Homo sapiens: one gene and its partner. The protein of the gene in region 2 purifies or fractionates together with the protein of the main gene of each other region. This does not show direct contact. Each region holds a gene or a part of one and is shown on either strand. Other genes may lie near its edges.

Region 1 (5,314 bases), on a different chromosome or scaffold from region 2:
TGATTGATCTGTGGCAGAGTTCTATTTTTCTGTAAAAGTTTTATAAGATAGAGATTTATAATTTGTTTTTCAGAAGAAGATTGTTACTAAATTGGTTTAATTTCTTTTTTCTAGCAACCGCCTCCACGTTTGATAAACTTTCAGAATCACAGCCCCAAACCCAATGGACCAGTTCTTCCTCCTCATCCTCAACAACTGAGATATCCACCAAACCAGAACATACCACGACAAGCAATAAAGCCAAACCCCCTACAGATGGCTTTCTTGGCTCAACAAGCCATAAAACAGGTATATATCTACCTTCTTTTCTCAATTGCTTTTTCTGCTGCTTTCTACTTTCAAATCACAAAGAATTTACAGATTAAGCAACAGGTTATAAAGAGCCAAGAGCAAGCCTTCTTTTTCATTTTTTAAATAAATGTGAATTGCAAAGTTTGATGCTTTTTATCAGTAAGAGAAATTAAACCACTTATGTAGAAGTGATGGCCCAATATAATCAATGACCATAGGTATTAATTTTTATAATATGGTATGGATAACTTTTAGGTGAGTATATTAAATTTCCTAAGATAAAAGTATTCTAACAAATACAAGTTACATTCCACAAAATAGAACAATAAATGAATCTTTGAAGCGTCTCAAGAAGATTTCTTGGAAACAAAATTATGGCACAGTTTCAAGAGGGAATACATATATATCTGATGAAGTTTAATATTTAATTCATATTTAATATGATACAGCTTATTTATTTTTATTTTTTTATTTTTTTTGAGACAGAGTCTCTCTCTGTTGCCTAGGCTGGAGTGCAGTGGCGCAATCTGGGCTAACTGCAAACTCTGCCTCCTGGGTTCACACCATTTCTCCTGCCTCAGCCTCCTGAGTAGCTGAGACTACAGGTACTCGCCACCACGCCCAGCTAATTTTTTTTGTATTTTTAGTAGAGACTGGGTTTCACCGTGTTAGCCAGGATGGTCTCAATCTCCTAAACTCGTAAGCCACCGTACCTGGCCTCCTTTTTTTTTTTTTTTTTTTTTTTTTTTTTTAAAGTCTCTCTCTGTCACTCAGGCTAGAGTACAGTGGCATGATCTCAGCTCACTGCAACCTCTGCCTTCCGGGTTCAAGCAATTTTCCTGCCTCAGCCTCCAGAGTAGCTGGGATTACAGGCGCCCACTACCATGCCTGGCTAATTTTTGTATTTTTAGTAGAGACAGGGTTTCACCATGTTGGCCAGGCTAGTCTCGAACTCCTGGCCTCAAGTGATATGCCCGCCTCAGCCTCCCAAAGTGCTGGGATTACAGGTGTGGGCCACCATACCCGGCTGTATTATTTATATACTTAGTGTCTTCAGGTAAAAATATTTTCTGTGTTTTACATTATCTTAAAGTTATCACAGTGTTTTTTCTTCTCAAAGCTCCTATGACAACAGCCTGTCTAGCTGATTGTAGACTGATTTTGGTTTCTCCAAGACCAAAATAAAGATGATGCAATTTTCATAATTCTATAACATCCATTTTAATAAAATCATTTTAATATTTTATTCTAAAAGTATGTACACTCTGTGTCTATACATATCTTCGTATAATCAATTTGCCTTTGCTATATCATCACCAAATTCTCTTAAACAATATTTTAATTATTTAAAATAAAATTCATACCTATTATTTCATCATTAGAAGGAAAGTAAAAAGGACCCAAGCTTCAGTTTGGCCTTAAATTCTACTTATTTTCCTAATAATTTTGTGGCACTTACGTAGTCTTTTCGCATCTCCCTTGCCTCAGCTATAAAATGCGTATCTTGCAGAGTTATGTTGAGAGTTTATTCTAATGTATATACAAGCACCTAGCACATGCTCAGTATTCAAATGTTTACCTCTTCCCTATTTATTGTATTTTAATGAGTAGATACTCTAAGCATGTTTTTTTAAAATGGTTGTTGACCAAAAATGTAAACATGAATGAATAAGTAAAGGAACAAGCCAGGAAAAAATCTACTGGGAAATTGCTTTTAAGTAGTAGATGAGTTTAACAAATTAGAGTATACTCATACAGTGGAATACTTTTCAGATATTAAGAAAATGCAGTAATCTAGATATGATTTTCTGAGTACGTGAGGAAAAGCATGTTATAGAATTTTTGTGAGGTGTTATCTCATTTGTATGTGTGTTTTCCTCCAGCCTCATCATGTACATAGAAAAAAACCTGAAACGATCCACCAACTGATTGTTCTTGGTAGAGGAGGAGGAAAGGGGGCATAGAGGTGGGGAATATGAGGGAGGAGTAGGTGGTAAAGAAGACATTCATGTCCAACTTCATATGTTTCTGTATGTAGTTTCTACAATGGAATATATAAATTAGGTTTTTCAAAATTGGAATGTTTCAGACATTTTATATAGTGCTGTTCATTTGTGAATGACCATGTTTGGAAAATACGGCATCTTGCAGTACACTTAGTTACTTTCCTTCTTCCAGCATGAAAATTTTCAAACATAATAAAAATTGAAAGAATTATATAGGGAACATTTTGTTCTACTTGCCTTATTACATGTTTATCTATTCCTTTGTCCATTCATCAAGTCATCCTTTTTTTTTTTTTTTTTGAGGCAGAATCTCTCTCTCTGTAGCCCAGGCTGGAGTGCACTGGTGCAATCTTGGCTCACTGCAACCTCTGCCTCCTGGGTTCCAGTGATTCTCCTGCCACAGCCTCCCAAGTAGCTGGGATTACAGGTGCCCACCACCACGCCCGGTTAATTTTTGTGTTTTAGTAGAGATGGAGTTTCACCATGTTGGCCAGGGTGGTCTTGAACTCTTGACCTCAAGTTATCCACCCACCTTGGGCTCCCAAAGTGCTGCGATTACAGGCATGAGCCACCATGCCCAGCCCATCATGTTTTTCAATAGGTTTTGAGTAAATTCCAGACAGCAGCATGCTTCACCTCTATATACTTCAGCATGCCTATCATCATCTTAATGTGTTTATCTCAGCAGGAATGATAGTACTTTCCTCAGATATTTATCGAGGCCTAATTATCTGTTCATATATGAGAAGAGGAATATAAAATCCTGAAAGTACCAGTCTGTAGCTTAGTATTTTCAAGTATTTCAGATAGGGATAGAAGAAATGTATGTTTTCAACCCTCCATCTTTACCTTGAAGTTGCTATGTATATATTTACATTTTTTTTCCAATATGTATAAACCTGCCAAGATTGGGTACTGTGATTTTCTGGTATATACTAACTGTTGTCTTCCAGTAAAAATCAGTGCTTTTTACTGTTTTGGTTTTTTTTTTTTTTTGACAAGATTAATGAAAATTATATATACTTGTGCAGTCTTTTGCTGTCCCATTCTCCTTCCATGTAAATTACAGTTGAACTCTTCTACTTCATTTTGTGTGAGTGATTACATAGATGTTGTATTTTATAAGCTTGTTGATAGCCTTTGTTCTTCTCTTCTTGTTACTGTAGTGGCAGATCAGCAGTGGACAGGGAACCCCATCAACTACCAACAGCACATCCTCTACTCCTTCCAGCCCCACGATTACTAGTGCAGCAGGATATGATGGAAAGGCTTTTGGTTCACCTATGATCGATTTGAGCTCACCAGTGGGAGGGTCTTATAATCTTCCCTCTCTTCCGGATGTAAGTAGACACAAAATTTATACTAGCCTCTGTTGAAAACTGTTGGCCGGGTGCAGTGGCTCACTCCTGTAATCCCAGCACTTTGGGAGGCTGAGGCAGACAGATTACTTGAGGTCAGGAGTTCGAGACTAGCCTGGCCAACATGGTGAAACCCCGTCTCTACCAAAAAATACAAAAATTAACCAGGCATGATAGCACACGCCTGTAATCCCAGCTACTTGGGAGGCGGAGGCTGTGGTGAGCTGAGATCATGCCACTGCACTCTAGCCTAACAGAGCGAGACCCTGTCTCAACAAAGAAAGAAAATTGTTAGTGAATTTGGATCTGGTAGAAGGCATGAATTTGTTGGATTATAGGTTGTTTGTTTTTACAAGTTAATTTTAATCCTTTAGAATATTACAACAGTAGTAAAAATAAAAAGATTATGAACATTGGACACATAATCTAATGTCTTTCAAGCCACCGGAGTTAAAGGTGTTTGTAAATGAGTGATTATGGTGATGGATCATGGAATCTAAGCTGGGAAAGGAGAAAAGTAAGGACATGGAAAGATATGCTGGGACGTTGAATGGCTGGACATCAGAAGAGATGAAGACAAGTTTAATAATAGAAATCCTGTTAGATCATACTGACAAGTGCAAAATTACCTCTGGTTTATACTACATGTAAATTAACTCACTCTCCAAACTCTTTGTCAGTATGACTTTTTGTTATTTATTATATTTTTAAATGATTTTTATTTTTAATAGAGATGGGGGAGACGCCCTATGTTACCCAGGCTGGTCTTGAACTCCTGGGCTGAAGGGATCCTCCTGCCTTGGCCTCCTAAAGTGCTGGGATTACAGGCATGAGCCACTACACCCAGCCAGTATGACTATTCCAAAGGCAGAAAGTCTGCATTCTGTAGACAGATCTCCATATATAAGTTGATTCTGTGTTTGATCCTTTTTTTAATCTAAAGTTAGATAACCTACTGTCGTGCACATATACATACGCACCTAATGTTAAGAAGCTTTTAGGAAATATCTTGTACTCTTTACTTGGATCAAATTACCTATAAGATTGTGAAAATAACTTTTTTATTTTCATTATTTGTTTTTCAAGTTGAGATCAATTAATATTTCCTAATAGTTGCATTGTTAATCTTACCAGAGTCATTCCATTTTTAAAATAGTTTTGTATACTTTAAATGAGTAGAATACATATATTTTCTCATGCATGGATGGTTCATAGGAAAACTTACATCTAATCCCCATAGTTTTATTTGGCTTTTAGGATTATCCCACAAAGTAAACAACTTTCCTTGTATTAAGTTCTCATGAATTTAGTCATTCTAGTACTTTTTGTACTCTTTGAAAAATATTGGCCAAGTATTGCCAAAAGAATATTAAAACAAAAATGACCCTGTATATTAACCACCTGGCCCGATTTCCCTGCCCCCGAACCCACAGAAAGTAAAATTCTTTCTGCTTTTTCCTCTGCAGTCCTCATACAGGTGAACCTTTTTCCACCAGGCTTTCTTACCTGAAATTCCTCTTAGGAATTACAGAATAAGCTGAAATGAGTGACTGTTTTCTCATTCCTCCCAAAGGTGCTTCATAACTAGTACCATTCTAGGTGCATAAGCAAGAAATTGATTCATTATATACAAACTGTGCCCTATGGCTGTAGGACTTA
Region 2 (5,314 bases):
TATAGTGTGATGTGTCTTCAGTCACCATTCGGTTTTCTTGGACCTGGGTTTCAGTACTGTATTGGGATAAACGAAGATACCCACCATGGCTATGTCTGCTTAGAGTGTCTAGTAAATATCAGCTTCTGGGTCATATTCTCTCATAGGAAAATCTGAGGTATTGAGTGTAGCGTCCCAAGTGCGCAGGTGGATGCCCTGAGTCTAAAAGGCATTTCCTAGTGCACTTTTTTTTTTAAAGCTAATTTTATGAGACATTAATATTGTCTTCACCCAACCCAGCTTTCATTTCTTAAAGACACATTGCTGGTCAGTCAATCAGATACCAGTATTGAGGAGAAAACAAATAATTTCTGCCTCCTGGTTTCCTTTAGAGAACAGAAAAATAGTAAAAAATTTCTAGAAAACAAAACAAAACAAAACAAAAACGAGGGCCAGGCATGGTGGCTCATGCCTGTAATCCCTACACTTTGGGAGGCCAAGGAGGGTGGATCACGAAGTCAGGAGTTCGAGACCAGCTGGCCAACATGGTGAAACCCCATCTCTACTAAAAATACGAAAAAAAAAAAAAAAAAGCTGGGTGTAGTGGTACAGGCCTGTAATCGCAGCTACTCAGGAGGCTAAGGCAGGAGAATCAGTTGAACCTCAGAGGCGGAGGTTGCAGTGAGTGGATATCACGCCACTGCACTCCAGCCTGGGCGACAGAGTGAGACTCCATTTCAAAAACAAAAACAAACCGCAAAAAACTGACCCCAGTGAGATGGTGTAAGAACTTGCAGAGTAAAATGCGCCTGAGACACTCACTGGGGCATAGTTCAGAGTCTCCTGAGAGGGGGTTATTGAGCACTTTAGTGAGTAGGATGGGGTGGGACAGTCTCTCAAGTAATTGGATGGCCTGACTTGACACATGATTAAGACATATCTGTGTCTTGAAAAGGTTTTTTCACTTATTTTGACCTAAGGCTTGTTTTCGTTGTCTTGAGACAGTTTCCCTCTGTCACCCAGGCTGGAGCGCAGTGGTACCATCTCGGTCCACTGCAACCTCCAGATCTTGAGTTCAGGTGATTCTCATGCCTCAGCCTCCCAAGTAGCTGGGACTACAGGTGTGCACCACCACACTCAGCTAGTTTCTGTAGTTTTAGTAGAGACAGAGTTTCACCATGTTAGCTAGGCTGTTCTCAAACTTCTGGCCTCAAGTGACTCACCTGCCTGAGCCTTCCAAAGTGCTGAGATTACAGGCGTGAGCCATTGTGCCCAGCTCACCTCGGTTTTTTAACTGTGTATTGCATTTTATTAGTAGAGCTTGAAAGGTAAGAAAATATTTGCAAAGGGCATAAAAGAGGTGAGTTTCAAAAACATTAATATCTAATAATATATTTTATTTGTTGAACATTTTCATTTACCTTTTTCTTTCTCAGAGTGAGTTTAGGAAGTTTCTCGGACATGTTTTTTTTTATGGAGGAGTGATTTTTTTTTTTTTTTTTTTTTTTGAGACAGAGTCTCACTCTGTCGCCCAGGCTGGAGTGCAGTGGCGCCACTTTGGCTCACTGCAACTTCTGCCTCCCGGGTTCGAGCAATTCTCCTGCCTCAGCCTCCTGCGTAGCTGGGATTTCAGGCACACACCACCACACCTAGCTAATTTTTGTATTTTTAGTAGAGACAGGGTTTCACCATGTTAGGCTGGTCTTGAACTCCTGACCTCGGGTGATCCGCCCGCCTGGGCCTCCCAAAGTGCTGGGATTACAGGCATCAACCACCGTGCTTGGCCTATGGCTGAGTGATTTCAAACAGAATTCCATCTAGCTTTTAGAATGGTAGCTACCAAGGAAAAAAATAAAGAAAAAAAAAAAAAAATCTCTCTTCAATTTCAGCTGTAGACAATGAATACATTTCCACAAAACAATGTGATAGATAATTGATGAGTTAAATAGATTCCTGAAAACTTCAATTCCTTTTTTTAGCAGGGTAAATCCTTGGTAGTGAACATCTTTGTTCTATATCCTGTGTTTTTTTGTGTGTTTGATTGTTTTTTGAGATAAAGAGTTGCACTGCGACACCCAGGCTGGAGTGCAATGGTGCAATCTTAGCTCACTGCAACCTCCAATTCCCAGGTTCAAGTGATTCTCCTTCCTCAGCCTCCGGAGTAGCTGAGACTGCAGGCCTGTGCCACCACACCTGGCTAGTTTTTGTATTTTTAGTAGAGATGGGGTTTCACCATGTTGGCCAGGCTGGTCTCGAACTCCTGACCTCAAGTGATCTGCCCACCTCAGCCTCCCATAGTGCTGGGATTACAGGTGTGAGCCACTGCGCCCAGCCCTATATCCTGTTATTTTGATTTTTGAGTTTAATGCTAAATTTTATGTGATGAAACTTGGTACCTCCTAGAAGTGTTCCTATGTGATTAATTTTTTTTTTTTTTTTGAGATGGAGTCTCGCTCTGTTGGCCAAGCTGGAGTGCAGAGGCGCAATCTCAGCTCACTGCAAGCTCTGTCTCCCGGGTTCACGCCGTTCTCAGCCTCTCGAGCAGCTGGAACTACAGGTGCCCGCTACCACGCCCAGCTAATTTTTTGTATTTTTAGTAGAAACAGGATTTCACCATGTTGGCCAGGATGGTCTCGATCTCTTGACCTCGTGATCCACCCACCTCGGCCTCCCAAAGTGCTGGGATTACAGGCATGAGCCACTGTGCCTGGCCTTTTTTTTTTTTTTAAATGGAATTTTGATGTTGTTGCCCTGAGTGGAGTGCAGTGGGCGATCTCGGCTCACCTCAACCTACACCTCCTGGGTTCAAGCAATTCTCCTGCTTCAGCCTCTCGAATAGCTGGGATTACAGGCACCCACCACCACCATGCCCAGCTAATTTTTGTATTTTTAGTAGAGATGGGGTTTTATCATGTTGGCCAGGCTGGTCTTGAACTCCTGACCTCAGGTGATCCACCCTCCCCCCCGGCCTCCCAAAGTGCTGGGATTACAGGTGTGAGCCATCACGCTGGGCCAAGCAATCCTCTTGTACCTCAGCCTTCCACGTACCTGGGACTACAGGCATGCACCACCATACCTAGGTAATTTTTGTTTTTGTATTTTTTTAGAGATGGGATTTTTCCATGTTGCTCAGGCTGGTCTCAAACTCCTGAGCTCAGGCAATCCACCTGCCTTGGCCTCTCAGAGTGCTGGGATTACAGGCATGAGCCATTGTGCCTGATCATACCATATTTTCTTTATTCAGTCTACCATTGATAGGCATTCAAGTCGATTCCATGTCTTTGCTATTGTGAATAGTGCTGTAGTGAACACCCTTGTGCATGTGTGTTTATGACAGAATAATTTATATTTCTTTGGGTATATACCCAATTATTAGGTTGCTTGATGAAATGGTAATTCTGTTTTTAGTTCTGTGAGAAATTGCCACACTGCTTTTTACAATGGTTGAATTAATGTACACTTTAACAGCAGTGTATAAGCGTTCCCTTTTCTCTGCAACCTTGACATCATCTATTTTTTTGCTTTTTAATAGCCGTTCTCACTGGCATGAGATTGTATCTCGTGGTTTTTCTTTGCATTTCTCCAATAATTATTGATAGGCATTTTATTATATGTGTGTTAGCCACATGTTTGTCTTCTTTTGAAAAGCATCTTTTTCAAGTTTTTTGTCTGCTTTTTAGTGAGGTCTTTTTTTTCTTGTAAACTTAAGATTTTTATGAATTCTGGACATTAGACCTTTGTTAGAAGCATAGTTTGCAAATATTTCCTATTATTCTGTTGGTTCTCTGTTTTCTGTGTTGATAGTTTCCTTTGCTGTGAAGAAGCTCTTTAGTTTAATTAGGTCCAATTTGTCAATTTTTGGTTTTTTTGCAGTTGCTTTTTGTATCTTCAATTATGAATTCTCTGCTAGATTCTATGTCTAGAATGACATTTCCTAAGTTATCTTCCAGGGTTTTTTATAATGTTAAAATAAACATTTCAGTCTTTAATCTTGAGTTGATTTTTGTATATGGTGTAATAAAGGGGTCCAGTTTCAATCTTCTACATAGTGCTTGCTAGTTATTCCACCACCATTTATTACATAGGGAATTGGTTCCACATTTCTATTGTCACCTTTGTTAAAGATCAGATGGTTGTAGGTGAGTGACATTATTTCTGGACTGTCTATTCTGTTGCATTGGTCTATGAGTTTGTTTTTGTACCAGTTCCATGTTGCTTTGTTTACTGCAGCTCTGTAGTATAATTTGAAGACAGGTAATGTAATGCCTTCAGCTTTGCTGTTTTTGCTTGTGATTACCTTGGCTATTCAGACTCTTTGGTTTTATATGAATTTTACAATAATTTTTTTTTTTAGTTCTTTTAAAAATATTTTGGTCATTTGATTAGAATAGCATTAAATCTGTAAATTTTGGGGGGCAGTATGATCATTTTTAGGATATTGATCTTTTCTATTTATGAGCATAAAGTTGTTTTCCATTTGTGCCATTTCTGACTTCTTTAAGCATTGTTTTGCAATTCTTATAGAGATCTTTCACCTTCCTGGTATTCGTAGATATTTTATTCTTTTTGTGGCAGTTGTGAAGGGATTGTGTTTATGATTCGTATTTGGCTTGGATGTTGTTGATTTACAGGGACGCTACTAATTTTTGTACACTTACTTTGTATCCTGAAATGATACTGCAGTTGTTTGTAAGTTAAAGAGCTTTTCTATGAAGACTATATGGTTTTCCAGATGGAGAATTATGTTGTCTGCAAACAGGGATAGTTTGACTTCCTCTCTTCCTGTTTAAATGCCTTTTATTTATTTTTATTTTTATTTTTTTGAGATGGAGTCTTGCTCTTCGCCCAGGCTGGAGTGAAGTGGCAGTCTTGGCTCACCGCAAACTCCACCTCCCAGGTTCAAGTGATTCTCTTGCCTCAGCCTCCTGAGTAGCTGGGATTACAGGCATCCGCCACTGCGCCTGGTTAATTTTTGTATTTTTAGTAGAGGTGGGGTTTCACCATGTTGGCCAGGCTGGTCTCGAACTTCTGATCTCGTGAGCCACCCACCTTGGCCTCCCAAAGTGCTGGGATTACAGGCGTGAGTCACCTTACCTGGCCAAATGCCTTTTATTTTTATCTTTTGCCTAATTACTCTGACAAGTACTTCCAATTTTATGTTGAATAGTAGTGTTGAGAGAAGGCATCTTTGCCTTGTGCCAGTTTCCAAAGAAGAATGCTTCGGGTTTTTTTTTTCTTTTCTTTTTGAGATAGAGTCTCACTTTGTCTCCCAGGCTGGAGTGCAGTGGCACAATCTCGGCGCTCTGCAGCCTCCACCTTCTGGGTTCAAGTGATT

What was found. Proteins that work in one complex are often made in the same cells at the same time.
Region 1: the proteins of ZNF254 (region 2) and TRIM24 purify together in Homo sapiens (affinity purification with mass spectrometry; 2 studies listed by BioGRID and IntAct, with this or other methods). This does not show direct contact.

What each region holds. Positions count from the first base shown.
Region 1 is NC_000007.14:138,567,367-138,572,680, forward strand, and holds part of TRIM24 (transcription intermediary factor 1-alpha), read left to right. Parts: intron 1-114; coding exon 115-288; intron 289-3,463; coding exon 3,464-3,637; intron 3,638-5,314. UniProt on the Homo sapiens protein: Transcriptional coactivator that interacts with numerous nuclear receptors and coactivators and modulates the transcription of target genes.
Region 2 is NC_000019.10:24,089,480-24,094,793, forward strand, and holds part of ZNF254 (zinc finger protein 254), read left to right. Parts: intron 1-2,421; exon of another isoform or gene 2,422-2,536; intron 2,537-5,314. UniProt on the Homo sapiens protein: May be involved in transcriptional regulation.